7 linked regions of the Homo sapiens genome follow. The protein of the gene in region 2 purifies or fractionates together with the protein of the main gene of each other region. This does not show direct contact. Each region holds a gene or a part of one and is shown on either strand. Other genes may lie near its edges.

Region 1 (3,500 bases), on a different chromosome or scaffold from region 2:
GTAATATAAATTTATTCTGTGACATTTTCCTCATTGAAGATATTTTAACATAGATTAAAATACATCAATATTTCATGAAAAATAAATTCTAGAAGAATTTAGATAATATCTGTAATGTACATGATTTGACCCTGAATATCCTTTTTTTTTTCACTTCAAACATCATTTTTTAAAAAGTAACATAAAATGATAAGGACTGCAACATTCTTCATATATCTTGTGTCTCATAAATTTTAATTCAACTGCCCGTTCTTTTCTCAACTATGTATGTTAATGGTATTTGCTCCTGTTTTTGAATAGGAAGAGTATCCATTTTCTGTTTCTTCGTGATATTTAGGTCTTCTTTCTCTGATTCTTCAAGAAAATGCTTCGTGCTGAGTTTGAATAGTAATCGAGGGTCTGGATTAGACAGTGGTGGACAATTACACATCTCTCTAATTTTGAGAGCCTATAAAGAAATAATAAAATAAAAAAATACTATATATATACATCAATGTATTCAGATTGTTTCAGTAATCCCTAATATGCTCCATGTAAAACAAAGAATGTATTGTTATTTTTTTAATAAAAGGTATCTTGATTATAACACATAAAAGAGAACCACTGAAAAATCTACAGTGAACAGTTGTTTTCATGATTTGGTCAAATAGTATTATTTTAAAAACAACAACAATAGTATTAATAATCTGTAACAACTGCCCTAATGCTGTTTTGAGGGTAAACAAATCTTAGAGATACATCTATGGTTTCAGTTAAACTCTAGCAGACCGGAGAATCATTCAGATTTAAAAAGGCTCTATGAGAGATTTTTTTCAAGAAAAACTGCAGAACATAGATGACTGAATATACTGAAAAAAGATATACATAACTGATACAGTCTTGGGTAAAATTGATGATAATAACCTAGTGATATGGTTTGCATATGTCTCCACCCAAATCTCATCTTGAATTGCAGTTCCCATAATTCCCACATGTCATGGGAGGTAACTGAATCATGGAGGTGGGTGTTTCCCGTGCTGTTCTCATGATAGTGATTAAGTCTCACGAGATCTGATGGTTTTATAAAGGGCAGTTCCCCCTGCATATGCTCTCTTGACTGCCGCCATGTAAGACATGACTTTTCTCCTCATTCGCCTTCCACCATGATTGTGAGGCCATCCTCAGCCATATGGAACTGTAAGTCAATTAAACCTCTTTCCTTCATAAATTACCTAGTCTCAGGTATGTTTCATTAGCAGCATGAGAATGGACTAATATACTTAGAAAAGTAAACAAATCAAAATCATGACAATTTTTAACTCCAGGAGAAATAAAACATTGCAAAGGAAGGAAAAGTAATCACAGTGTACTATGGGGCTCAGCTATGACTAGTGCTTACAGTTTAAAATACCAAATCTTGATGAAACCAAAAAGTACAATTTCATCATACTGAGAAGGGGAGAGCTGCATGTGTGTGCACATGCACAGGGTGTGACACTGGAAAGAGAGGGCTTACGTCTCATCCTGTAAGGTGGAAAATAATTAAGGCCCAAAATTGAAGTTAGAATGTAGCAACATAAGCATGTTATTTAGACACAATGGGAAATACTAAAAGAATCGTCCAATAGAATTGGAAATAGTTACCCCTGAAACTGATGGCAGGGTTGAGGGACTGGCTGCTGATTTAAGTAACTAGCCTTAGAACTATTTAACTCTTCAAAGTGGGTATATGGATAATTTTAAGATATAAGAGCCAAAATAATTTTTAAGGATAAATGGTCTTAATATTTAGGAGTTTTAAAAGAAAGACATTTAGGGGAAAAAGCTAATTCAGTTTTTTACGACTTCTGGCTTTCTGATACTGATGTGTCTTAAGGGAAGTAAATAAGGCAGTAAAGGAGACAGTGTTTGAGGGACTGGTAAAATCTTAGAAAGACTATCCAGGCAAGGCCTCACTGATAGGATAATGACTTTGGGGGTCAAGAGGGGGACAGACCTGAAGGACATGAGGAAAGAGACCATGTGGCAACCTAGGGAAAAATCATTCCAAGAGGGAGCTGCGAGTACAAGGGAGATGGGAGCGTGCCTGGGGTGTTTTGGAACAGTGAAGAAGCAGGTACAGCCGAGTGGAGCAGGGTGGAGGGCAGGAGCAGATTATGTAGGACCTCACAGGTCATGCTAAGGATTTTAAGTTTTACTCTAAACAGCCTGCCTCTAATATTTGTGGGGTCCATGGAAAGAATGAAAATGGAGGCCCAGATACCATGTCTCTAAACACCTAAAAGCAGTAAGTCAAGCTAATACACTACTACTTAAAATCTGTTCTATTCTCCTACTTTGAAGAATACACATTCGAAATTACCTGGAAGTCCAGGTACAAAACTAGAATTCTTGAATTTCAGAACATGTAAGATTGCAGGGAGCTTACTGTGTAGCTCTTGCCACTAGCCTGCCATCTGCCCCCTCTCCCAGCCCTAGCTTATCTGGCACTGTAAAGGGCCTTGTGTGAATGTGTTCAAGGAAGAGGTCCAGATGGGCCCTGAAAGCAGGCTCAAACATATCTGGGCAAGGAATTCCATTATTCCAGATACCCTGAGTGGGGTATGGTAGGGGCACAGGTTCTTGTATGCTAACATTTCATTGAGTCCCACAGGAGAGAGGGACTTGTAGTCAGATGCGAGCCAGATAGACGTTCTCTAAGTGAATGGGGTCAGGGCAGAAGCTTGGGTCTAGGAGCACTTCTAGCTCTGATTAGGCTCTGAGTTACCAAGGTAAGCTGGAGAGTTGAAAAAACATTACTTAACGTGAAATTCTTCAGTGGCAGTGGTCTTGTCTTATTTTTCTTTGTATTTCACAGCAGATTTAAGATTTCCTTATATCTAGTGAGTGTTAAGTAAATGTTTAAGTAAACTGAATTGACACAACAAGAAAATGTTTCCCAACTATAGCACTTACAGCACTTAAGTAAACAGAAAGTCAGATCCTCAGCTAAACGGTGACCTACTGTCCAAACTGGGATACCTTTGAGAATGAAATGAGATGCTAGCAAGATTTGCACTGAGACATCAGGCATGAGCCATGACTGTCTCTGCAAAATTGGGACGTACGGTCACTCTTGCATTAGTTCCTTTACAATGATGTTAATTTTCTTTCCCAAGTGAGAAGTTTACCTGTCATGGCTGCTATATCAGTGTAGTGCCTATGTTTAAGCACTGCACTGGCATCAGTAAAGGGGGAGAGTATGGAGTCCAGCAGGTAACAACTGGCACAGCTGAGTGTGGCAATGAGAGATGCAAAGCAACAAAGAGAGGAATAGGATGCCATCCCCTAAGATCTTTGTGTATTCAGTAAAAACTCTTCTCTTATCCTTAAATTCGCTTATTCAGTCTTTTTAATACAACAAATATTTAGAACACCACAGTGAGTAAGGTGCTAGGTACACATTGGTCAGAATAGTCATGGTCCCTGCCCTCATGTAATTTACTTTGTATTTCTCCGTTACTGGGCATTAGAATTGTTCC
Region 2 (4,323 bases):
AAGACCCTGTCTCTTTAAAAAAAAAAAAAAAAATTAAATTAGCCAGGCATGGTGGTGCACACCCATGGTCCTAGCTACTTGGGAGGCTGAGGTGGGAGGATCACTTGAGCCCAGGAGTTGGAGGTTGCAATGAGCTATGATCACACCACTATACTCCAGCGTGGGCAACAGAGTGAGACCCTCTTAAAAAGGGCCAGGCACAGTGGCTCACGCCTGTAATCCCAGCACTTTGGAAGGCCGAGGCCGGCAGATCTCGAGGCCAGGAGTTTGAGACCAGCCTGGCCAATATGGTGAAATCCCATCTCTACTAAAAATACAAAAATTAGCCAGGCGTGGTGGCAGGCGCCTGTAGTCCCAGCTACTCGGAAGGCTGAGGCAGAAGAATCACTTGAACCTGGGAGGCAGAGGTTGCAGTGAGCCGAGATTGTGCCACTGCACTCCAGCCTGGGCAACAGAGCAAGATGCTGTCTCAAAAAAAAAAAAAAAAAAAAAAATCCACTGGCGAGTGAGGCATGGTGGTACATGCATGTAATCCCAGCTACTCAGGAGGTTGAGGTGGAAGGATTGCTTGATCCCAGGAGTTCAAGACTAGCCTGGGCAACATAGCAAGACCCCATCTCAAAAAAAAAAAAAAAAGTCCATTGGCATTAGCTTTCCTCACCAGAACTTTAGGATGTATCTCAGATTATTCTTCCAGTTTCTAGATCTCTTTCCCATCACAAGACTGAAGAAGCAAACTACTTGCAGAGATGGAAGTAGCCAGATGTGGAGATGAGTTCACTGACCACTTTGATGTTTTTCTGCCAGTGATGATAAGTGGTAACCAAAAGGGATGATCAAGAACTTCCTCAGTCACAACATAGCCTATGAGCAGACCTCAGAAACATACCCTTCCCCATTTCTCTGTAGATGTGAAATGTGAAATGTGACAAGGGCCAAACATCAGACTCTTCCCAAAGGTTCCGATGTCCAGTCTGGGGACACCTGGGCCAACACAGCAGCCCCAGCTGTGAAGATGGAAGGTCCAAGAGGCACCAGAGAAGCAGATGATAAATGGACCACCTCAAAATCCAAAGACTGGAAGAAAATTAAAACAATAAAGAATAAACTTGGCTGGGTGTGGTGGTTCACACTTAATAATCCCAGTACTTTGGGAGACCGAGGCAGGAGAAATGCTTGAGCCCAGAAGTTCAAGACCAGCCTGAGCAACACAGTGAGACTGTCTCTACCAAAAAAAAAAAAAATTAGCCAGATGTGGTGGCACATGCCTGTAGTACCAGCTACTCAGGAGGCTGAGGCAGGAGAATCACTTGAACCCAGGAGGCAGAGGTTGCAGTGAGCCAAGATCACGCCATTGCACTCCAGCCTGGGCAACAAGAGCGAAACTCAGTCTCAAAAAAAAAAAAAAAAAAAAAAAAAAAACAGGAAAGGAAACGAAAAAGCTTGTGGTACTAGCTGTTTCTTCTGGATAAAAAACTGGCCTTGATGACTACATTAAAGAAAGAATATCAGATAAGACCATGCATTCTCAGTGAGTGCAGTAACAGCCCAGAAGGGGTGAAAATTGATTCTTGGGGGAAAAAAAGTTAGATATTACAATGGTTTGTGGCCATCCAAAGGGCCACAATACAAAAACAGATACACAGTACATCTGTGGTATTAAAATTCCATTGGGGGTAGCTGGGCACGATGGCTCATGCCTGTAATCCCAGCACTTTGGGAGACTGAGGTGGGCAGATCACTTAAGGCCAGGAGTTCAAGACCAGCCTGGCCAACATGGCAAAACACAAAAACTACTACTAAATAACACAAAAATTAGTTGGGCATGGTGGTGGGCGCCTATAATCCCAGTTACTCAGGAGGCTGAAGCACAAGAATCACTTGAACCCAGGAGGCAGAGGCCACAGTGAGCAGAGATCACACCACTGCACTCCAGCCTGGGCGACAGAGTGAGACTCCCTCTCAAAAAAACATTCCACTGGGGAGTAGACAATTAAGGGAAAAAAAGTCTCAAAATATGATAATGAACAAAAGGTTGAAAAATAATTAGATGAACCCAAAGGGTTGAGTCTTAGATGAACCCTAAGGGCACAGTGTTCATTAACTTGTATAATGGTCATGGGTAGGGTAACTAACTTGTCCTGGTTTGCCCCGGACTTTCCTGCTTTTGGCACTAAAAGTCCCACATACGGATATCCCTCTGTCCTGGGAAAACTGGCATGGTGGTCCACTCTTCTCAAGAGAGAGATCAATGAAGGCATTCCCATTTCACAAATGAGGTGACACCAAGAAACACAGTGGTTGTCACGGATTCACAGCACTTTAGCAGCATTCCTGAGGCAAGGCTGGCTCTTTCCATTTGTCTAGTCCTATGCTCACAACTCTCTGCCCCTGATTTCCACTTTGGCAGAGAATGTTACTCATGAATTGATTATGCCACTTCCTTCTCAATACCAAAGCCAAGGGCAGTATTAGGAGGATGAAGGCAAACATGGCCAGCCAGCATAATCACAGCCATGTCTTACAGCTGCCTGGTGGAACCTGAAGGAACTACAAGTCTGGGCTGAATATAGTTTTGTTGCTACTGGATTCTGGGTACAAATTTGCAAAAGTAAGAATGCCAGGTGTAAACTCCTCACAAGCTAGGAAAATTCCTAGCTTGAGGTTCTCCACATGTGTCTGAGCAGCCCGAATCTTTTACAAGGTTTTTGTCCCAAAGATGAACTCAGTTATTGCTTATGCTAGGAATCAGGGGTTACCCAAGGCCTCACTCTGAATGGCAACAGGCTATTCTCCTACTCCCCTACTCAGCAGTGAAATCCTTGGTGAAAGTAAAGGAAGAAAAGAAAAGGGCATGCTATTCCGTCTTTAGTCTACGTATAATTAAAATACAAGACTCTCTGCTGTAGAAGACTAAGGTTTGCAGTTTAAGGCCGACTCAGAAAAGGATAAAGTATTCATCCTTGCTCAGAAAGAGAGAAGATTAGCTCCACAGGATGGGTCTCCAAATTGACACCAAATCCAGGAGTTAGAGATGGCTGTGCTACAGAGCGTGATCCAAGCACCATCTGGAGCCCCCAGAAAAAAATCCCTAGGAATAGCGACTAAGGGACTAGCATTGTAAGAGAGTTCAGATTAGCTCTCCTGAAAAGAGGCTTACTACAAGAGACTGGCAGACAGCCTCTGCAGCAAAACTTCACTTAGGAAAGGACAGAAAATGAATGAAGAAAGACAGGGGGAGGCTGAGCAGGTCAGAGTATGAATCCACAAGTATGTGAAAAAGAGAATCCACCTATTTCGAAAAAGGTACAACTTCCTTTCAGAGCCTTTTTTTTTTTTTTTGAGACAGAATCTCTCGCTCTATCACCCAGGCTGGAGTGCAATGGCACAATGATCTCGGCTCATTGCAACCTCCGCCTCCCGAGTTCAAGTGATTCTCCTGCCTCAGCCTCCCGAGTAGCTGGGATTACAGGCATGCGCCACCACGCCCGGCTAATTTTGCATTTTTAGTAGAGACGGGGTTTCTCCATGTTGGTCAGGCTGGTCTTGAACTCCCGACCTCAGGTGATCCACCCACCTCAGCCTCCCAAAGTGCTGGGATTACAGGTGTGAGCCACCGCACCCGGCCAGAGACTCTCATGTTCTTTTGAATATTCTCATTAACGGCAAATCTTCATTCTTTGAGGGTGAAAACATTTATTGCATTCCTATGTCCCAAGAGCTTTCATGTGTAATACGTCATTTAACCACCCTTCAAAGTAAATATTATTCCCAGTTTTTTTTGTTTTGTTTTGTTTTGTTTTGAGACGGAGTCTCGCTCTGTCGCCCAGGCTGGAGTGAATGGCGTGATCTCCGCTCACTGCAAGCTCCGCTTCCCAGGTTCACGCCATTCTCCTGCCTCAGCCTCCTGAGTAGCTGGGACTACAGGCACCCACCACCTCGCCCGGGTAATTTTTTGTATTTTTAGTAGAGACGGGGTTTCACCGTGTTAGCCAGGATGGTCTCGATCTCCTGACCTCGTGATCCGCCCACCTTGGCCTCCCAAAGTGCTGGGATTACAGGCGTGAGCCACCATGCCCGGCCCTATTCCCACTGTTATGTAGTGGTACATTGAGCCCCAGAGGTGAAGTAACTTATCCAAGGTTATGTGGCTAATAAGTGGTAGACTCAGAATTAAAACTCATGTTCACCACCCTCCAAAAATCTGTTATTTCCACTTCAAAAGAACTGTTAACTCATCTGAAGACAAGGCAGGTGACAAGGTTGCTTACCCATGCCATTCGGGGTTAAATATATATAGGCTGTGTGCAGTGGCTCACGCCT
Region 3 (4,323 bases), on a different chromosome or scaffold from region 2:
TAGGCATCTGTTTCAAACTGTTTCTGAGTTTTGTTTTGTTTTTTTTAGGGGAGCAGGAGCGGTAGCAGCATTCACATGATTTTCAAATGCCCTCCTGGGCATAAGATCCCAAACGGTTACACATGAATCTGTATAACTTGCTTGTCCAGGGGCTTGGCTTGTGAACAGGCTTACACCAGGGCCAGCAGCCACCCCCTCTGGATGTGCTGGCCCAGGGAGAACAGGCCCACTAGTCCTGCACACTGGATATGTCTCTGACAGGGAAGGCAAGGGGTCACAACAAGGCTGGGGGCAGCAAGCAGCCTCCAGACCTTGAGGAAGTAGAAGAAAAGGCCTATGTCCCCATCCCCTAGTCATAGCCAAATGGCCCCCAGGTACCCTAACTCAGATGGCAGTGGAAACCCAAACAACAGCTCAGAAAACACCAGGCTAGACACCTCAGACTTAGCTGATAGTCCAAGACACATAAGCACCCCCAGGGCCTCCCTCAGCATGGCAGGCAGATTAGAGACAGACTTGAATTCAATGGACTCCAGACCTCCCATCTCAAGTGGGCATGGTGACTACGCCCCAACAGGAGACATTCTGACGACCGCTCTGATCAGGAGGGCTCGGACACTACTTCCTAGTGGAAGTACTAGATGTGAAAGGCCCGGACCCAGGCCAGTTCCTGGGGAGAACTGCATGTGGCCTACTTCCCACAGCCGGCCCCCAGGGACCCAGCCCACCCAGGGAGACCAGGGAACCGGCTGCTTTGAAGCTCATTCAGAAAGGAGGCCTTTGCTTCCTTGATTCCATTCCAGGAATTCTCAAACGACAAACATGAAGAAGACTTCCCTTCTTTGTCCCAGCCTCTGCAAGACACCTGAGGTTGCCTCAGTCTCTAGACACACTGATGTCTGCCAGTCCGAGGGCCTCCAGGAAACCCTGATGTCAACTCAGAGCATGGGTTCCAAGGCTCAACTCAACCTCTGGACCAAGGGATGGCTGAGGCCATTAGGGGACAGATTCCATTCAGGCCCCTAAGGGGCGGCTTGCTAACCATGCCCAGATGCAGCCCCCAACCCTTGCCCAATTCAACTCTTATATACCCTTCTCAGCTGCACCAGTCCCAGGCCCAGCAATCTGCCCAGGTCACATGGAAATGCCTCCATCCATCTCCCTGCAGGCTGTGTGGGTGACAAGCCTGTTTCTGCATCTTGCCCACTGCCCAGACAGTGAAGGTACCACCACTCCACACCACTCAGCACCTGGCCGACACCTCTCACCTGATGCCCGTGGAGTGTGTAGAGCAGCCGGCCCTCCATCAGGTCCAGGATCTTCAGGGTTGAGTCACTGGAGGCTGTGATCAGGTAGTTTCCCGACGGGTGGAAAGAGAGCCCGTTCACTGCTGCACTGTGCACTGGGGGAAGGACATCAGTCAGGTGCTGGCTAGGAGGCACAGGGAGCACAGCTGAAGCCCAAGACGGGCAATCAGGGCCAATCGAGGCTCAGCACAGGCCTGATGGGGCTGGGTCAGGATGGTCATTGCTCAGAAGAGCTGTGGGGAACCCAACAAGGATTTCCCAGGAGAGGGGCACAATCGAAGAACAGGAAAAGGCCTGTTCAGAGCCAAGGGCAGGCAGTGGAAGACAGGCGGACAGAAACAGATGCAAAAACCAGAGGCAGCAGACGATTCCTCCATCCTCTCCCACAGCACCAAGCGGTCAAGCTGGAGCAGAATAGAGTACTCAAACATACAAACATAGCCTTTGGTCTGCCCGATATACTCTTTCTTTAAAGAAACCAATGGAAAACAAAACCCTTCAAATGTCAATACAATGCCACTGCCACACAGGAAGGACGTGTGTGGGGGCAGACGAGCAGAAAGCTAAGACACTCTTAGGAAGCAGTCAGGCCTGCATTCGGACCCCAAGCCTCCTGCCTGGGCTCACCCCATGACGTTTTTTGAGAGACAGAGTCTCACTCTGTCGCCCAGACTGGAGTGCAGTGGTGCGACCTCAGCTCACTGCAGCCTCCGTCTCCTGGGTTCAAGAGATTCTCCTGCCTCAGCCTCCTGAGTAGCTGAGACTACAGGTGTGCCACTACGTCCAGCTGATTTTTGTATTTTTAGTAGAGATGGGGTTTCACCATGTTAACCAGGCTGGTCTCAAACTCCTGACCTCAGATGATCCACCTGCCTCGGCCTCTCAAGGTGCTGAGATTACAGCCGTGAGCCACCACATCCATCCTGAGCAAGCATCTTAACCACATTGAGCCTCAGTTTCTCCATCTGTACCATAGCACCTATGTGTAAGAGGTACTGTGCGGATGCTACTAAGTTAAGCACATGAGGTCTTTGCAGAGTGAGCCATCCAATGCCAACATGGATGTTCCTCTCCTTTGCCCCCTGTGTTCCATGCAACTCAAGGTCCTGCCACTTCACCCACTCAACAGCTTGGCCCTGTCCATGACTCTCTTTTCCCTACCATCTCAGGCTAACCCCACCATCTTTTCTGGTGTCCCTCACTCTCCAAGAGCCGGCCACCCCAGCTCTGTCGATTCCCCCAGCCGTAGAACTTTTTTACCCCTTGTTTCCAATGGGCCTGGGAGACTCTTGCCCTTCCCTTTCCCTGACCTTAAAGCTCATTACTGGAAGCTGCCTTCTCCAGGAAGCCTCCCCTGGCCTCCCAATTAGGGCCACCCCCTTCATTTGTCCTTCCAAAGCAGCACAAGCCTCCCATCGGTTCACTCTTCACATTCACATGCAACTATCTGACTCACATCTGGATCTCCCATGAGACCATGAACTCCATCAGGCAGGGGTGGTAAGTCCCTGGCACCGAGCAGGACTCAGAAAGTGGTTGGTGAGCAGGTGCTTAAGCTGGGTATCCAGAAGCCCCAGCAGGTTACACAACTCTCCCTCAAGGTCAAGAGCATGTTCTAGGTGAAGCTGGGGGCACACCTGGGCAGTCTACGTGGGGACAGAGCAACTCCACAGCCAATGCATGGATCAGCTGTATCACAGCCTCCTAGGGTGCCTTCTGAGGAAAACCCCAGTGTCTTTCTTCCCATTACCAGAGGCCCAATGAGGAAAACCAGTGGGGCTAAAATAACCATGACCCTGCCAAGTCAGAATTGCCACCAACATAAAGGCAGATTCAAAACCAACCGTCATCTTAGCACTGAAAGGCTGTAAGAACCACTACTGGGTTGGTAAACACACCCAACACGAAACGGCCCTCAACAAGGCCCACAGGGTGCACGCAGTCCCTCAGATGCCAGCCCAGCTGATGTGCCGATGTGCCGGGGAGTCTGGATACGTGTTCCCAGGCACACTTAGGGGGAAACAGCCAAGGCTTTACGTAACATGATATTTATATCTCAACAACACCCTCCAAGCGCCAGGATCTCCAGGAGGCAGGCTGGAGAGGGACCAGTGGGGTCTCTGAAGCCAGCTCTTGGAGGCAGAATTCAGAGACCCCCCCACCAGAAAGTCTGCACTGGGATGAAGGCCACCTCCACCCCTCCATGAGCAGAAGCTGCCAGAGGAACAGCCGGTGGCAGGAGGGTGCAGAAGGGAGGGCATGCTCAGGGAGCTCTGGGCTTCCCAGCACCATCAAGGTGGCAGGGTCAGTGTATGGATGCCACACCAGGGGCCCCCACCTGGTCAAGCCCATCCAAGGGAAAGAATCTCTCCCAGAAGAAGGGCAACAGAATCTCCACTCCACATAAATGCCAGGAATACCCAAGCCTGGATAGAAACACCTAGAACCATTTACTCCAGAAGAGGGGCTGGCCTGGCATACCAGGCTTTGGGGGATACCCCAGACACCAGGACCCACCCCACCTTTCCCCACTTGCTCTCCTGCCTCACCTACTGGCCGCACCAGCCTCCACTCTCACTCCTCTTGCCTCTGTGGAGGTGGTGGGGAGCGGGTAGTCTATGGAGGCCTCATCGTAAGAACCACCCCTGCATGAGAGTCTACCACGAAGGCTAGGCTGTCCCATGAGGGCATGAGCCTTCTATCATGATGCCTTGAGCGCCAAATGTCTGAGCATGATCCACTTTTTTTCAAGTCCAAAGCCGCAGGCCTCTTCTTGGCTCCATGGCAGATATCAGTGATGACACATACTGCCACCTGGGTGGCAGCTGTGAGCTTGTGGCTCTTATCCCATCTCCACTCCAAAGAGAGAACTCTGACTCCAGGTCAAAGATACACCAACATCAAACTTCTACAGATCCTCAGGGACCCAGGGATGAGGCCACCACAGCCCCTGCTCCCAAATACCAAGAACTAGTCATGGCTTGTGGGCAGTAGGTGGTCTAAGCAGAGACCTGAG
Region 4 (4,323 bases), on a different chromosome or scaffold from region 2:
ATCCTAGCCATTGCCACACCCACTATGGGCAAAACCGGAGCTGGGTGCAAGCTATAGAGCCTATTCCTTGAGTGCCCAATTGTGTGGCCCTGACTCATCTCTAATCCTCTTGTCAACCCCTTGCTATCCCGATGACATCCAGGGAGGCCCACTATGTGCACTGGGGCTGTGGGTATGTGGAGATACTGCATAGACTCCACTCTGTGGCTCCTCCCACAGATCTGTGAGGTTCTGAACGCTACTGAGATGACCTGTCAGGCGCCCGCCCTCGCTCTGGGTCCTGACCACCAGTCAGACCTGACCGAGAGGCCCGAGGAGTTTGGCTTCATCCTGGACAACGTCCAGTCCCTGCTCATCCTCAACAAGACCAACTTCACCTACTATCCCAACCCGGTGTTTGAGGCCTTTGGTCCCTCAGGAATCCTGGAGCTCAAGCCTGGCACGCCCATCATCCTAAAGGTGGAGTGAGGGTGGTGGGAGGCGGGGGTGGGAAAAGAAGGGGCTGCTGCATGGAAGGGGGTGTTCAAGTCACAGACTCCTGCCACATTTCTCAACCAGCATCTCTTGCAGAGGTTGCAGTGTAGCCCAGAGTGTGATAAATGTTCTCTCTGAGTCTGTACTGGGAAGAAAACTCTCTTTAGGGGCCGGTTCTACCCAGGGAAGGCAGATCCACCTTGGCTATTTGACTCTCAAGCTTTTATTGTCCTGAAAGTCCAAGTACTGGCAGGTCAGGCTCACTGCTTCCTCTGAGGCAGCCTTGTGCGAACCACAGCATAGGGCTTCCTTTGGAACATGGGTTACAGGTTAATTAAAGCTTATGACAATTTGAATCAATTGGTAGTGACTGACTCCAACTCTGCATTGAGAAGGATTCTGAGGCTGCATTTGGGATAAGCTGAAAGGAGTACTTTGATAACTGATTAGCCACTGGGAGGAAGAGGCAATGGTGGTAGTCATGCCATGAATATTTTTTGCACTTATTACCAAAGGTGGCTTCTTCACCAGCTCACCAGCGGGATGGGACCTCCAGGTGGGAGGACATGAGAGCCAGCTGGTAGCTGTGGTCCTCACTCTGGGGTGGGAACTGGTGCTTTCCCATTTGTACAGGGCAAGAACCTGATCCCGCCTGTGGCTGGGGGCAACGTGAAGCTGAACTACACTGTGCTGGTTGGGGAGAAGCCGTGCACCGTGACCGTGTCAGATGTCCAGCTGCTCTGCGAGTCCCCCAACCTCATCGGCAGGCACAAAGTGATGGTGAGGCTGGCAGAACCCCATCCTGGATGGAGCGGGCAGTAGGGATGCAGATGTGAGCTCAGGCCACCAAGGCTTTCCAAGAGGGGATTCTGTCCCACAAAGAACTTTTCCTGTAGCTACCCCACACCCCAAGTTCTTTCTTCATGTTCACTTTTGAGCTTCTCTCTTCTGTATTGTCATTCTTTCCACACTGGCTGGTGCAACAATAAGGAAAATGCAAAACAGCATTAAATAGTTGCTAAATCACCTGCAACAAACAAAGCCTTCAAGGAGAAGGCTGTTGCTGGCCCAGGGAATTCCGTAATATCTTAATATCATGTTCTGTGCTTCAGTTGTCCACCCTTAGATTGGGCATAAATCTTAGGGGAGCCAGTCATTTGTGGCAGACTGTGTTTAGGTCCCAGTTGTGTGCTGTTTTCTTATGAAGATGACAAAACTCGCTCCTGAATAAGAGGAGGTGAGGTTTTTCCAGTTGGGGGTGAGCTCTGTTAAGCTGTGCCTGTCCCCGCTCCCAGCCCCCCATGCCCTCTTGTCTATTTTGACACCAGTGATTGGTCTCCTTTCCGTCATCCTGCCCTGGTCACTAGTTCATGGGTAACTTGGGACTGTTGCCAAAGCTGCTGCGTCCCCACACCCAGCTCCCTCTTGCCCTGTGTGCCCCCAGGCCCGTGTCGGTGGCATGGAGTACTCCCCGGGGATGGTGTACATTGCCCCGGACAGCCCGCTCAGCCTGCCCGCCATCGTCAGCATCGCAGTGGCTGGCGGCCTCCTCATCATTTTCATCGTGGCCGTGCTCATTGCCTATAAACGCAAGTCCCGCGAAAGTGACCTCACGCTGAAGCGGCTGCAGATGCAGATGGACAACCTGGAGTCCCGTGTGGCCCTGGAGTGCAAGGAAGGTACTGAGTGGCCCCATGCTGGAGGCCATGTGTGTGTGCGTGTGTGCATATGTGTGTGCATGCACATCTGTGTATGTGTATGCATATGTTTCATATACAAACAAGCAGGCTGGGCAGCAGTGGGCAGTGCTGGAGGCTGGCGGTGTGTGTGTCTGTGCGAATGTGTGTGTGTGCATGTGTGTGTGTGCACATCTGTATGTATATATGTTTCATATACAAGCAAGCAGGCCGGGCAGCAGTGAGCAGTGCTGGAGGCTGTATATGTGTCTGTGTGCGTGCGCATCTGTGTATGTGTATATGTTTCATGTACAAGCAAGCAGGCCGGGCAGCAGTGGGCAGTGCTGGAGGCTCTGTGTGTGCGTGTGCATGTGTGTGTATGTATGTGTATGTGTTCCATTTACAAGCAAGCAGGCCAGGCAACTGTGAGCAGTGCTGGAGGCTGTGTGCGCGTGTGTGTGTGTATGTGTATGTGTTTCATTTACAAGCAAGCAGGCCAGGCAGCTGTGAGCAGTGCTGGAGGCTGTGTGTGTGTGTGTGTGAGCACGCACGTGTGTGAGCACGCACGTGTATGTGTATGTGTGTCATTTACAAGCAAGCAGGCCAGGCAGCTGTGAGCAGTGCTGGAGGCCGTGTGTGTGTGTGTGTGTGTGTGTGCGCGCGCGCCTGTATATGTGTATGTGTTTCATTTACAAGCAAGCAGGCCAGGCAGCTGTGGGCAGTGCTGGAGGCTGTGTGTGTGTGCACGTGTGTGTATGCGTATGTGTTTCATTTACAAGCAAGCAGGCCAGGCAGCTGTGGGCAGTGCTGGAGGCTGTGTGTGTGTGTGTGTGTGTGTGTGTGTATATATGTGTATGTGTATGTGTTTCATTTACAAGCAAGCAGCCCAGGCAGCTGTGGGCAGTGCTGGAGGCTGTGTGTGTGTGTGTGTGTGTGTGTGTATGTGTTTCATTTACAAGTGTGTGTGTGTGTGTGTATGTGTATGTGTATGTGTTTCATTTACAAGCAAGCAGGCCAGGCAGCTGTGGGCAATGCTGGAGGCTGTGCATCCTACCTGCATACCTGCAAAGCCTCTCACTCTATAGTCCCTATGCCTGTGTCCCAGACCACACCCATACCCAAGCAGGCCCCACCCTGGCAACACCAGAGAGGCCAAGGTCTCCTTGCCCTCTCCTTGAAGGTGTAGTGATTAGAATCTCTTTTATGTGTGGCAGGCACACAGCTTTGAATGTTGGAGGCGCTTGGTGACTTAAAGGAAAGCTGCAGACTGATAAAAAGCCAACTCCCTCCTTCTGCTCCCTGTGGGCCGAGCACCCCAACTGGGAGGGGGCAGCCGAGGGGAGCTCCCACCCAGGATTGTCACCTTCACCCCACTAGAGCACCTTCACCCCACTAGAGCAGCCTCCATACCTGGAATCCTGGTTGAGTGGGTTTTGCACTCTACTCGAGGGGAGGTCTGGGGGTGTCTTAACATGACGCATTTCAGCAATCTCCAGCTTTCTTCCTCTAGCAGGAAGGTAAGGCTGTAGGGCTGATCTGTGATTTAGAAGGAAGGGTGTTTCAAAGCTTGTATTAAAAAAATTACAAACACCACCATAAAGTGAAATCAGCTGCACTAAATCCAAGAAGGAAATTTAGGAGTCAGACTCTTGTAACCCCCAGGATATCATTTTGTGACTCATCCTGGGAGGATCTGAGCTGGTTCTTTGCTGTAGATTTGTACATGGAGTAAATCCGGCCCCATACCTGGGGCTCTCACTTCACACCGATTCCCACCAGGGCAGCCACGGCTCTTTTTGATGGGGAAGTGGATCCATTCCATCCCCTCTCTACATCCTTCAGCTGTCAACACAGCATCCGCCTTGTGGGACTGTTAATTACTGCCTTTTATTATATTTACGCTGCTTAATTTTTTTCTCCGCAATGTACTCTTTCCTCTAATTAGGTGTAGTGATTAGAATCTCTTTTATGTGTGGCAGGCACGCAGCTTTGAATGTTGGAGGCGCTTGGTGACTTAAAGGAAAGCTGCAGACTGATAAAAAGCCAACACCCTCCTTCTGCTCCCTGTGGGCCGAGCACCCCAACTGGGAGGGAGCAGCCGATGGGAGCTCCCACCCAGGATTGTCAGCTGAGGCCCCAGGAGGAAACCTTGGCTTCAGACTTTAGGGGCGAG
Region 5 (4,323 bases), on a different chromosome or scaffold from region 2:
TCAGACGCATGGCCCTCAAGCAACCCACAAAGGGGCGTCTCTTAAGCTCTGCAGATCCTGGGAAGGGTAGGCAACAGGTCAAGAAATGGAGGCAGGGCCAGGCGCGGTGGCTCACGCCTGTAATCCCAGCACTTTGGGAGGCCGAGGCGGGCGAATCACGAGCTCAGGAGATCGAGACCATCCTGGCTAACATGATGAAACCCCGTCTCTACTAAAAAATACAAAAAAAATTAGCTGGGCACGGTGGCGGGCGCCTGTAGTCCCAGCTACTCGGGAGGCTGAGGCAGGAGAACTGCTTGAACCCAGGAGGCGGAGCTTGCAGTGGGCCGAGATCGTGCCACTGCACTCCAGCCTGGGTGACAGAGCGAGACTCCGTCTCAAAAAAAAAAAAAAAAGAAAAGAAATGGAGGCAGAGCCAGAGACAGGATGAAGTATTGTAGTTGGAAAGGGAGCCAAGAGGGCTGGAAGAATAGAATAGGATACAAAGGCCTGGAGGGACAAGTGAGACACTGGCTTGCTCTGAAGCAGAGGGGACTGGCACCTAAGACAGGAGGCTCCTGGAAACAAGGCGAGTGGCCTTGGAGGATGGGGAGGTAAAGGAGGCTTCAGACTTGCCTCTGGGTTGCTGCTTACCCACATAGAGGGGCTGGTCATACTCCATCCAGATGTAGGTCTGCAGTGGCATAGGCCGCAGAACCCAGGGCCGGTGATCCACTCGGAGCCGGGCCTGCTTCACGTTGATTTCAGCCCGGACCAGGTGCCACTCGTCATCATTGAACTCAAAGTCGTCTGAGTGTACTGTGAGGTTCTCATCCCCATTCCCCACATCAAAGGCGAAGACCACATCCCGGGATGCTGGACAGTGTGATGCAGGGTAGGGGAGAAAAGGACTCAGACCTACAAGACCCTTCATAGATCCTTGCCCAATATAACCTCTTTCCCTCACCTCTTTGGAGCTTCTTGAATATCCCTCCAATTTGTCTGTAGCTTGCATTGAAACTTACCAGCTGCTTAAAAACCTCATACCCTTTGTCTCTCCCCACATCACAGATCCCTGAAGCCAGCTTCCCAGCCTCACTTCCCAGGCTAGAAGCATGGCTAATCAGCGGTGAGAGGGACTCGAAGGTCCAGCTTCCTTATGGCACAAGGAAGGGGCTTAAGGCCAAGAGAGGCCAAGTGAATGCCTAGGGTCACCCAGCCAGCCGTCAAGACCGAGTGAGGGCTAGAACATAGGGTATCTCAACCCTTCCCATGCTGCCTGTCAAAAGGGCATCTGCCCTTGGCTCCAACCCCAGCCTACCCCTGTCTCCCCAGACAGCACTTTCATCTACCCCGAGGCCCTCCCACAGTCTGCCTGCTCACTGTTGAGTTCCACCCGCACATAAGGTCGGCGCCACTGGCAGTAAGGGCCCCCCATATTCTCTAGGAAGACCCCCGAGGGAGCAGAGGTCCTGAAGTAGAAGGAGACATCCAGGCTGTGGTTGGCACGGATTGGGGGGAAGCGTAGTGCAGCCCCGGTGTGGAAGGAAATGGTGTTCCAGGAATTTCCTAGAAAAGCAGATGGAGGAAGGTCTTGTCAGGGAGATTGGAGGGTGGAGGAGGAAGAGAACCTGGGGTTGGGGGCAGGGAAGGTTGGGCAAAGGGGGAGGGTTTGAGGTGACGGAGGGGAGACTAAGGAGTGGAATGAAAGAGGAGCCAGGTGCAGAGGGGTAATGAGATCGCATCACAGCAGGAGCTGGGGGTCGGGCACCCCAGCTAGAGACCACCAGTGACATGCGGCCTAGATTTTGGAAACTGGAGAGTCAGCTCTGGGAGGGCACACAAAAGGGGACTGCCACTCACGATCGCCATAGCAGCGCAGAGGCCTCAGGAAGAACTGGGCCTCAGAAGTGGAGCGGTTCGTATCCCCTATCACTACCTGAGTGACAGGCAGATGGTCCACAAAGGTCAGCAGTCCCTTGTCAGTTCTCCTGTGGGGGCAGGATGTCATGGCTCAGCCCCAGCCACTCAGCTCCTCCCACTCCCGGAGTCCTAAAAACCCTGTCCCTTTGCCCCCTCACCACTGGGGCTGGTCAGCGTCACAGTTGCAGTACAAGGCAGGGTCCACACAGCTCCGGTCCAGACCACAGGCACAGCGCTGGATCCCAGGCTGGGAGCCTCCCCAGTAGAAGTGCTGCTCCTCATTTCGGCCAATCCAAAAGCTGTAGGGGTAGCCTCCTGGGGAAGAGGTGCAGGCAGCTTCCAGGCCCTGTCCCTCCATTAGCCTCTGGGCTCCTCTCGCCCTTCCAGCGAGTTCAGACCCCTCCTTGAATCTTCCAACCCAAGGCCCCAGCTGGCTCTCTGGCTTCCTTCTCCCAGGCCCCCATTGGTGTCTCCTCCAGTTCCGCCACCTCCCTGACCCCAGCCCTAACCTGCAGTGTTGAGCAGCCGGGAATTGTAGCAGGAGAACTCGATCCACTGTTCACAATGCTGGGAAGCATTGGCAAGGGCACTGACTTCCTCCCAGGATGCATTCCAGTACTGGATAGCCCCCAGGAATGGCCGCTCCATGCTGGAACCTGTCACTCGAGTTGTCCACAGCCTGTCATGCCGCACAACTGTCCACGCTCGGTTCTCTGGCAGACAAGAGGGGACAGAGCTTTGGCTGGAGTTGGGCATTCTCTACCCATCTCCCTGCCCACCTCCACCACCGCTGCTGCAACTCAGAGCCACTGAACGTGGCCAGCAGCTCCATTCCACCTCTGCCCTGGGCACTCTGCATTGTAGGCTGGAAATAAGATAGCTGGAATGGGTAAGGAAGCTGGGATATACTTTTTTTTTTTTTTTTTTTGAGATGAAGTCTCGCTCTGTTGCCCAGGCTGGAGTCCAATGGCGCTATCTCAGCTCACTGCAACCTCCACCTCCCAGGTTCAAGTGATTCTCCTGCCTCAACCTCCCGAGTAGCTTCCCAAAGTGCTGGGATTACAGGTGTGAGCCACCACGCCTGGCTTGGGATTTACTTTTAAGGCTAGGTTACAAATTCCTCAGTATGCCCTTCCCCTCTGTCCTCCTTTACCCTCACTTGTTTAGTCTAACTGGCCCCCACCCACCACTCTATCCTTCCTGGTTCTCCCCTCACCCCCTCACCACCCAACAGAGACACTTACCTCGGATATCACAGTACACTACAAATGGCTTCAGGGGGCCACTGCCATCAGGATCAATGGTGAAGTTTCCAGAAGTTTTCCCACTGAGCCGATAAGCCTCACAGGATTCCTTATACAAAGCTGGCAGATAATAGGTTGAGACAAAGGCAGTTAGAGAGTTAGAGGGCTGGCCAGGTGCGGCGGCTCGGGCCTGTAATCCCAGCACTTTGGGAGGCCGGGGTGGTGCATCACCCGAGGTCAGGAGTTCGAGACCAGCCTGGCCAACATGGTGAAACCCCATCTCTAATAAAAATATAAAAATTAGCTAGGCGTGGTGGTGTGCACCTGTAGTCCCAGCTACTTAGGAGGCTGAGGCAGGAGAATCGCTTGAACCCAGGAGGCAGAGGTTGCAGCGAGCCCAGATGGCACCACTGCACTCTAGCCTGGGCAACAGAGCAAGACTCTGTCTCAAAAAAACCAAAAACAAAAAGCGAGAGGGCTGGAAGGGCCATCCTCGCCATCTCTAGCAGCCTGATGATCCCCAGCAACCTTCTATTGACCTCCCTTGTCCCTGACTCCCCCCATACCACATCTGGCTTACGTGTGTGGCAGGTCTCTCCCTTGTAGCCCGTCAGTTCGCAGTAGCAAATGAAGTCATCCCAAGACTGGTAGCAGCGTCCATCATGCTCACACATGTTAGGGCTGCACCTAGGGAAGGGGTCAGGACCAAGGGAAGGAGCCTTACTGGGAGCTGGAGAGTGGGGTCTGATCCCTGCAAGCTTCACTCCCAGCTCCTTGAAGCCCCAGAACCCGGTGAGACACACCCCGCCTAGCCAGCCGGGTATAAGCGCAGATGCAGGGGCACTAGGCAGTCCTCAGGGCTCAAGTACTACTATTCCCCCTTCCTGAAAACATCAAAACATGCCTTATTCTACCCCTATCATCCCCCTAGCACAAAAAACCCCTCTAGGACCAAAAGCAAATGTGTCATTTCCATCCTGAGCATGTATCACCTTAAGGGAAGAAATAGGAGGTAAGAGATCAAAGAAGAATCATCCCCAAGCAGGGGACTAAGGAGCAGAGACAAGGAGAAGGGAGATTATTGAAAGAGGCCATTCCTACTGGGAGACCAGGGAAGAGGGCTTTGGAGGGGTCATCTCTTGTTAGGGGCTTCTGGGTACCTATCAGTGATGCCACA
Region 6 (4,323 bases), on a different chromosome or scaffold from region 2:
TTGGGAAACCTGGCTAGGCATAGGCAGAAAACTGAAATTGGACCCCTTTCTTACACCTTATACAAAAATGAATCTTAGACAAAAAAAGAAACAGGCAACCAAACACCGCATGTTTCAAAAATGAAAAGATGGATTAAAGATTTAAACATAAGACATAAAACCATAAAAATCCTGGAAGAAAACCTAGGCAATACCATTCAGGACACAGGCATGGGCAAAGACTTCATGACTAAAACACCAAAAGCAATGGCAACAAAAGCCAAAATAGACAAATGGGATCTAATTAAACTAAAGAGCTTCTGCACAGCTAAAGAAACTATCATCAGAGTGAACAGGCAACCTACAGAATGGGAGAAAATTTTTGCAATCTACTCATCTGACAAATGGCTAATATCCAGAACCTACAAGGAACTTAAACCAATTTACAAGAAAAAAACAAACAACTCCATCAAAAAGTGGGAGAAGGATATTAACAGTCACTTTCTCAAAAGAATACATTTATGCAGCCAACAAACATATGAAAAAAAGCTCATCATCGTTGGTCATTAGAAAAACTCAAATCAAAACCACAATGAGATATCATCTCATGCCAGTTAGAACGGCAATCATTAAAAAGTCAGGAAACAACAGATGCTAGAGAGGATGTGGAGAAATAGGAACACTTTTACACTGTTGGTGAGACTGTAAATTAGCTCAACCATTGTGGAAGGCAGTGTAGCGATTCCTCAAAGACCTAGAACTAGAAATACCATTTGACCCAGCAATCCCATTACTGGGTGTATACCCAAAGCATTATAAATCATTCTACTATAACAATACATCCACACATGTTTATTGCAGCACTACTCACAATAGCAAAGACTTGGAACCAGCCCAAATGCCCATCAATGATAGACTGGATAAAGAAAATGTGGCACATATACACCATGGAATACTATGCAGCCATAAAAAAGGATGAGTTCATGTCCTTTGCAGGGACATGGATGAAGCTGGAAACCATCATTCTCTGCAAACTAACACAGGAACAGGCAACCAAACACTACATGTTCTCACTCATAAGTGGGAGTTGAACAATGAGAACACATGGACACAGGGAGGGGAACATTACACACTGGGTCCTGTTGGGGTTGTGGGGCAAGGGGAGGGATAGCATTAGGAGAAATACTTAATGTAGATGACGGGTTGATGGGTGCAGCAAACTACCATGGTCCATGTATACCTATGTAAAAAACCTGCATGTTCTGCACATGTATCCCAGAACTTAAGTATATTAAAAAAAGATAAATAAATTAGAAAAAAAGAGTGTATCATTTAGAAAAAGGAAAGATAGATAAAACAACTCAAAGAAAACTCAATGTATAAAAATCTAAATCCCTGAGGGGATACATCCATGTTACGAATAATTAGAAATGACTATAAATCTACTCAATACGAGTTGATGTCAATGAAAAATATAACTATTGGTTAACGGATGGTATTTTATTAAGAATATTTTCACTATACCATATAGAAGACCTTTTCTGTGTCCTTTGCTTAAAAGTTTTTTTATCAGATTTCCAAGGGCAGAAGAAATTATTTTCTATATTAAACTTTTATACATGTCTATACATACATATATACAGACACAAGTGCATATGGCCTTTTATGACCCAACTTTGGTGCTCGAACAGGTGCAAGGCAGCAGAAGAGAAGCAATATTTGAAACAATGTTCAGAGGTTATTAACTTGGAGCAAGTTGTACATGGAGCAAGTTTTGGATTTATAAAGGTCACTAAGAAGCCAGTAGTGGAGTCAGATTAACAGAGAACATTAGTTTCTGGAGATGGCAGAGTCACTGAGAAAAGAGCAGTAAAGTTTGCATTGATCTCCGAAGACAGTCTTATTAGCTGTGTTAGTAACATCTGCAGAGTTTCTAGTCAGTTGAATTTATACAGACCGTTCCTATGACTTCTTCCTCAGGGTCCCCTTGAGCTGTCATGTAGGTCACCCTAAACTGCTGCACATCGCTGTCAGAAATGTCCCATTTTACCCGCAGGCTAGAAGTAGTTTCATCACCTACAACTAGGTTTCTGATTCCCGTCTGGAAAACTGGAATAAACACAACCAAGGATTAAAAAACTTTTAACATATCATATTCCAAAATGAGCCACAGAGAATACCTGTGGGGTGACAGCAAGCATCATTTAATGTATCCCTGTAATATAGTTGTATATGAGGCAAGAAGGGCTCAGCTATGGTGCTTAATGGGGAGGCATGATACCTACTAGCAGCAAATAAAAGTGGAATTAAGAGATGCTTACAAGATGAGACCATGGAGCCCTCAAAACTGTCAGTTCTGTATGTGCACTAGTAAAGAGAACTGGGAAGAAGCCCTGAGACTAGAAAAACAGCCCATGGAACCCAAAGGAAAGAGTGGTCATGAGAACCTCACACTAGTGCTCTGTGGACAAGTGGGCACAGTGGGCCAGACTTTGTCCACCTCTGTGTGCAATCCAGCATCCAACACACATCCCAATCACCTGCCCTCACCTCCATTTCTCTTTTAACACCTGTCATTCAAAGCACAAATCTGCGCTCAGGCTGCCTTTATCCATTCAGCCCACACAGACACGATCTTTTCTCTGGTACTTGTCCAAACTCCTTTACCTGTGTTTCCTGGCACATTCGTGCTCATCTCTCAAGGTGCCTGCTCCCTTATTTGTTGCATTTTTTTCTTTTCTCTTCTACCCTAACTTCATTTCCCTTTGTCCATCTTTTCTCATTCTCCTTTCTCTTCATTCATCTATTAATTCATTTAGAAAATATTCATTGAACTTTTTCTGTGTGTCAGACTGTTAGGGCTTTGGTTTTTATATAGTTATTAACTCAACAAAAATAGTAAAAGTGTCACAGAGGAGGAGGGGGTTGACATTTACCTGGCAACATTGCAGGGGGGCTACCAGGCAATGGGAATGGGAGGGAACTTCTCACATTTAGGGAAAGGAGTTCGGGATTGCAAGAGAAAAACGGGGGAAGCATAGGAAATATGGTTGAGGCCAGGAAGGGAAGCAGGACCCAACTAGGAAGGATCTTGGATGCTGTGAAAAAGACTTTAAAGCACAAAGAAGGCTTGATAAGGATTAAATGAAGAATGAACAAATCAACAAATGGGTAATGGAGAGCCATTGAAGTGTCTTAGAGAAGTAAATAAATGATATTATCAAACTTGTGTTTTACCAAGTTGACTCTGACAGCTAGTTGGGAGGTGTATTACAGTGAAGGGGAAAGCTAAGCTGAGAGAGGAAACAACTAATGTAGGAAAAACAATAGACCAGCCAAGTGTCAGTTACCCACAGAAATGCAAGGAAAACATGGTAAGAATAATTCTCAACAAGGCCAGGCATGGTGGCTCATGCCTGCAATTCCAGAACTTTGGGAGGCCAAGGATGAAGGAACATTTGAGCTCAGGAGTTAAAGACCAGCCTGGGTAATATGGAAAGACCTCATCTCTACTAAAATTCAAAACGATTAGCCAGGCACGATGACACATGTCTGTAGTCCCAGCTACGTGGGGGGCTGAGGCTGGAGGATCACATGAGCCCAGGAAGTCAAGGCTGTGGTGAGCCTTGATCGTGGTGCTGCACTCCAGCCTGGATGACAGAATGAAACCCTGTCTCTAAAAGAAAAAAAGAGAAAAGAAGGGGAATTCTCAACAGAGAGCAACAGAAGTGCAAATCAAAACCACAATGAGATACCATCTCACACCAGTTAGAATGGCAATCATTAAAAAGTCAGGAAACAACAGGTGCTGGAGAGGATGTGGAGAAATAGGAACACTTTTACACTGTTGGTGGGACTGTAAACTAGTTCAATCATTGTGGAAGACAGTGTGGCGATTCCTCAGGGATCTAGAACTAGCAATACCATTTGACCCAGCCATCCCATTACTGGGTATATACCCAAAGGACTATAAATCATGCTGCTATAAAGACACGTGCACATGTATGTTTATTGTGGCACTATTCACGATAGCAAAGACTTGGAACCAACCCAAATGTCCAACAATGATAGACTGGATTAAGAAAATGTGGCATATATACACCATGGAATACTATGCAGCCATAAAACATGATGAGTTCATGTCCTTTGTAGGGACATGGATGAAATTGGAAATCATCATTCTCAGTAAACTATCGCAAGGACAAAAAACCAAACACCACATATTCTCACTCATAGGTGGGAACTGAACGATGAGAACACATGGACACAGGAAGGGGAACATCAGACTCTGGGGACTGTTGTGGGGTGGGGGGAGGGGGGAGGGATAGCATTGGGAGATATACC
Region 7 (3,984 bases), on a different chromosome or scaffold from region 2:
CTCAAGGTAGAGACTGGTCTAATAATGCCCAAAGAGCATGTTATCTTACAATAAACATAAACAATTAAAGTAGATCAGCCTAGTTTCCAAAAACATCAATAATTTTCAAAGTTTACAAGAATCACTTGTAAATTTCCACATGGCTACTCTTCTAGAACTGCTATTCTAATAATGTCTGGGAACATAAGCAACTGCCTATAGTAAGAAGTAATGATTCTCATATGCCCACATAAAGGTATGGAAAAATGCTCACTGCCTAGATCGCTTAATTTTTTTTTTTTTTTGTAATTAACTAAGACTAGTAATTGCTGGTTTTCAGATGTAACTGGTTTGAGAGACAGTAGTACCGTGCAAAACGGAGATACTACTGTGGCAAAGGATGCTTGAGTTTAAATAGCCAGAAACACCTTTACCGATACACAAATATTTTAGATGTGTCCCTACTTTATTTGAAATACTGATTCCAACCTGGAACTGCAAAAGGGATAGGAGATGTGATTGATACGGCAATTTGGGTCAAGTAAATGTAAGTACAGTGTAAGAAATCACCAAATTGATTTACATAACTGCTTGAAAACAAAATACAAAGCATTTATTAGTTATGAGCTGTTGTTGAAGGTCTGCTTTAGTATATAGCTTTCACTAATGTATACTTTTCCTCATGCCTTCTCATCCTTAAGTTTCTCCTTATTAAAATAGTATAAAATGAGTTATATTTGGAAAAGTTAACCTAACTCCTTTTGTGAAACACAAAATATTTGGAGTTGCCAAAACTATTTGAATGTTTCACTGCTTGTAATCTTGTTTGTATTCAACTGTTAACATATATATATATATACATATAATTTTGAGTCAACTACTCAATTTTCACTTTTTCATCTTTAATATGAGAAATATAAAATAAACCCTGTATCATATAGCAATTTAGCTCCATCTGGAAGAAAAGCAAATGTAACCATGTGATATCTTAAAATTCCTGTAGCTTTCCTATGAGAAAAAAGTTTAAATATGGGAACTGAGGCTTATTTGGGGGTACATGATTTTAATTTTCTCCTAGTATTAAAAAGACAAAAAAAGTTTCATAATTTGTCATTTATTGAGTCCAAATGTTTATGCTTGCAATACTAAATATTTTGTTTTTTCTCTCAAGACAAAAAAAAAATCCAAGGCAGTCTGTTTTCTCCTCTTAAATGTAAAGTGATTTCATCAGTAATATTTCAGAAAGTAGAAAAAAACTATGCTTTGATTGCATCATCACAATATGGGGGGGATACATGGATCTTGATCCGGGCATTTTACCATAAGGTAGTAAACAACTGGTGACCTCTCTATTTTGATTGTGTTGAAAAAGGGCTACCACCTTGGCTTGCTGAAGGTTTGCTAGAGCTCAAAACAGGAAAAGTACTAGCTTAAAAGGCATGCTGAGATTTTAAAGGTCCTAAAGCTCAGGTTTAAGTAACTTTTAAACAATCAAAAATAGGCATTTTGAATTCAAGTGTAAGCTCTGAATTTTCAAGGAGTTTCATATTAAATTACTTTTTGGTACTTGAATTACTAACTCAGGACATAGATGGAATGCACAGTGTATCTCTCTTACACTATTAAAAAATTAGATCTGTCCAGGGGCAGTGGCTCATGCCTGTAATCCCAACACTTTGGGAGGCCAAGGTGGGCGGATCATGAGGTCAGGAGATTGAGACCATCCTGGCTAACACAGTGAAACCCCGTCTCTACTAAAAATATAAAAAAATTAGCTGGGCTTGGTGGTACGCACCTGTAGTCCCAGCTACTCAACAGGCTGAGGCAGGAGAATCACTTGAACCCGGGAGACGGAGGTTGCAGTGAGCTGAGATTGCACCACTGCACTCCAGCCTAGGCGACAGAGCGAGACTCAGTTTCAAAAAAAAAAAAAAAAAAATTAGAACTTAGTCATTCCTTCATGAATTCCAAAATTAAGATTGTATTAAAGACTGTAAATCTTGTTTGCATTAGTAAATTTTTAATTATAAAAATTCAATGCTATCATAAAACATACATGAGAAAAGTGTGATATTAATCATCTAACTTGAGAACTAGAAGTAATTTGGGTGCCAGGTGCAGTGGCTCGTGCCTATAATTCCAGCAATGCAGGAGACTAAGGTGGGAGGATTACTTGAGTCCGGGAGTTGGAGTCCAGCTTGAACAACACAGCAAGATACTAACTATATAAATGAAAAAGAATTAGCCAGGTTTGTTGGTGCATGGCTGTAGTCCTACCTACTCAGCAGATGGAAGCAGGAGGATTGCTTGAACCCAGGAGTTCGAGGATGCAGTGAGTTACAATCATGCCACTGCACTTCAGCCTGGGCAACAGTGCGAGACCCCATCTCTTAAAAAAAAAAAGAGAAAGGGAATTTTGCAATACTAAGTTAAGCTTTTCCTAAGAGGTAGTCTGAAGTGTACAAATACTGCAGCAGGGAATTATTCACCTAAATATTTAATCTTCTTTATAGGTCAATGTATGCAAACACAGTATTTAAAAATCCATTTCATATAATTTGAGATCTCATTTTTAAATATGTAGTCTGGAATATAAACATATAGATATTATGAATACTCTTGTAAAACAAAAAGGAGAATTGGGTAACAAAGTAGGGTATCCTGGCTGGAGGCACCTCCAGGCATAGGGAAAGTTGCATAACAGGTAGGTGAGTAAAGTGCTCTCTGCAATAGAAAAGAATCACTTGGTGAGGCCAAAAACTCCTAACAAATCCTAATATGCAGGTAAACTTCATCGTCCAAAGGGCTGATCGGAATTTTAATACTTCCATTGCCAAAAATCTGACTCTATTTGAGGAGTTTCAGATGGAAGCCTTTAACTTTTAAAATGGAAATCAAAGGCAAAGCAGAATTTTGCTTTAAAGAAATTCCTTTCATAGGAGATAAATTTCATTAAAATTTTAATATGGTATTTGGAAAATACGAAAACAATTAAAAATCATATATAAGTATCAAAATAATTTTTAAAGTCCTTTTTAAAGGCACTTAACTGTTCTAATCCTAAATGAAAGAAAATAATCCTAAATCAATATTGTTCTCCCTCCCATTTAGAAAAAGCCTTGAAACTCGATTGAATTTTCTTCCAAGCATACTTAAAGGACCAACAATCAGTCTACAATTCTAATCCTTTCCTATTAAAATTCCTGTGGATAGATGGTGTTAGTTTATAGCCAAACTTTGTTGGAAATAATTTGAAGAAAAAAAATTAAAACCTAGAGAAGGCTCATTCACGATTCAGAATTTTCTGTTTAAAAATCTTTCAAAGTATGTTATATCACTTATTTTCATCAGTTAACGTCATGGCTCTTAATGATATATTTTTTAAAGTGATGCTTCTGTTATTTTCTGCAAAACGTCATTCTGCATAAACTTTACTGCAAAACAGACCCATCACTATTTCTCCTTCTCTCCATTATATTGTTTATCCTGTTTTCATAAATTTATCTTTAAAAAAATCCATTTGAAAAACTGTTACTTGTGATATCCTGTTTTCTAAAACCACTATTTTAAATCTAGTTTTTCAGTCTTGTTATTTACCTGGAATTTTGTTTCCCCATTTCCTTAAATGATTTAAACTTTGAGGATTGGCTGCTGATTCTTCTACTGCCATTCAGTACTACAAAAGGAAAACTGATATTGGTACACATATTCCAAATACAGCTTTTAATAGTACCTGTGTGATAGCTCCCTCTCACTGTTTTTAATCTTTTATAATGTGAAGATTTAGAACCAATCCTTAAATAGTAAGAAAGTTAGAACACAATCTAATACAGAATCAATCATATTCAGGACACCCTGAATGCAAATACTTCATAATACAGTTTTATAGTTTAATGGACAATGTTTAACATGGCACCTCTCAAATCTGATATATCTTGTGGTGCTTACAATTTGCCTTACACTTTCATTTAAAGTTACCCTGTTCTCCACTCACCACATGTATAA

What was found.
Region 1: the proteins of SIL1 (region 2) and OMA1 purify together in Homo sapiens (affinity purification with mass spectrometry; 2 studies listed by BioGRID and IntAct, with this or other methods). This does not show direct contact.
Region 3: the proteins of SIL1 (region 2) and POC1A purify together in Homo sapiens (affinity purification with mass spectrometry; 3 studies listed by BioGRID and IntAct, with this or other methods). This does not show direct contact.
Region 4: the proteins of SIL1 (region 2) and PLXNA4 purify together in Homo sapiens (co-immunoprecipitation; one large-scale study listed by IntAct). This does not show direct contact.
Region 5: the proteins of SIL1 (region 2) and CNTNAP1 purify together in Homo sapiens (affinity purification with mass spectrometry; 2 studies listed by BioGRID and IntAct, with this or other methods). This does not show direct contact.
Region 6: the proteins of SIL1 (region 2) and COL14A1 purify together in Homo sapiens (affinity purification with mass spectrometry; 2 studies listed by BioGRID and IntAct, with this or other methods). This does not show direct contact.
Region 7: the proteins of SIL1 (region 2) and ERGIC2 purify together in Homo sapiens (affinity purification with mass spectrometry; 2 studies listed by BioGRID and IntAct, with this or other methods). This does not show direct contact.

The regions. Positions count from the first base shown.
Region 1 is NC_000001.11:58,480,727-58,484,226, forward strand, and holds part of OMA1 (metalloendopeptidase OMA1, mitochondrial precursor), read right to left. Parts: intron 449-3,500; coding exon 239-448; 3' UTR 1-238. UniProt on the Homo sapiens protein: Metalloprotease that is part of the quality control system in the inner membrane of mitochondria. Activated in response to various mitochondrial stress, leading to the proteolytic cleavage of target proteins, such as OPA1, UQCC3 and DELE1.
Region 2 is NC_000005.10:139,191,604-139,195,926, forward strand, and holds part of SIL1 (nucleotide exchange factor SIL1 precursor), read right to left. Parts: intron 1-4,323.
Region 3 is NC_000003.12:52,136,901-52,141,223, forward strand, and holds part of POC1A (POC1 centriolar protein homolog A), read right to left. Parts: intron 1,403-4,323; coding exon 1,269-1,402; intron 1-1,268.
Region 4 is NC_000007.14:132,177,517-132,181,839, reverse strand, and holds part of PLXNA4 (plexin-A4 isoform 1 precursor), read left to right. Parts: intron 1-219; coding exon 220-459; intron 460-1,107; coding exon 1,108-1,254; intron 1,255-1,918; coding exon 1,919-2,153; intron 2,154-4,323. UniProt on the Homo sapiens protein: Coreceptor for SEMA3A. Necessary for signaling by class 3 semaphorins and subsequent remodeling of the cytoskeleton. Plays a role in axon guidance in the developing nervous system. Class 3 semaphorins bind to a complex composed of a neuropilin and a plexin.
Region 5 is NC_000017.11:42,689,031-42,693,353, reverse strand, and holds part of CNTNAP1 (contactin-associated protein 1 precursor), read right to left. Parts: coding exon 4,307-4,323; intron 3,834-4,306; coding exon 3,727-3,833; intron 3,267-3,726; coding exon 3,147-3,266; intron 2,616-3,146; coding exon 2,412-2,615; intron 2,218-2,411; coding exon 2,061-2,217; intron 1,971-2,060; coding exon 1,843-1,970; intron 1,549-1,842; coding exon 1,363-1,548; intron 856-1,362; coding exon 634-855; intron 58-633; coding exon 1-57. UniProt on the Homo sapiens protein: Required, with CNTNAP2, for radial and longitudinal organization of myelinated axons. Plays a role in the formation of functional distinct domains critical for saltatory conduction of nerve impulses in myelinated nerve fibers.
Region 6 is NC_000008.11:120,229,232-120,233,554, reverse strand, and holds part of COL14A1 (collagen alpha-1(XIV) chain isoform 1 precursor), read right to left. Parts: intron 2,089-4,323; coding exon 1,937-2,088; intron 1-1,936. UniProt on the Homo sapiens protein: Plays an adhesive role by integrating collagen bundles. It is probably associated with the surface of interstitial collagen fibrils via COL1.
Region 7 is NC_000012.12:29,336,275-29,340,258, forward strand, and holds the end of ERGIC2 (endoplasmic reticulum-Golgi intermediate compartment protein 2), read right to left. Parts: 3' UTR 1,078-3,984; downstream 1-1,077. UniProt on the Homo sapiens protein: Possible role in transport between endoplasmic reticulum and Golgi.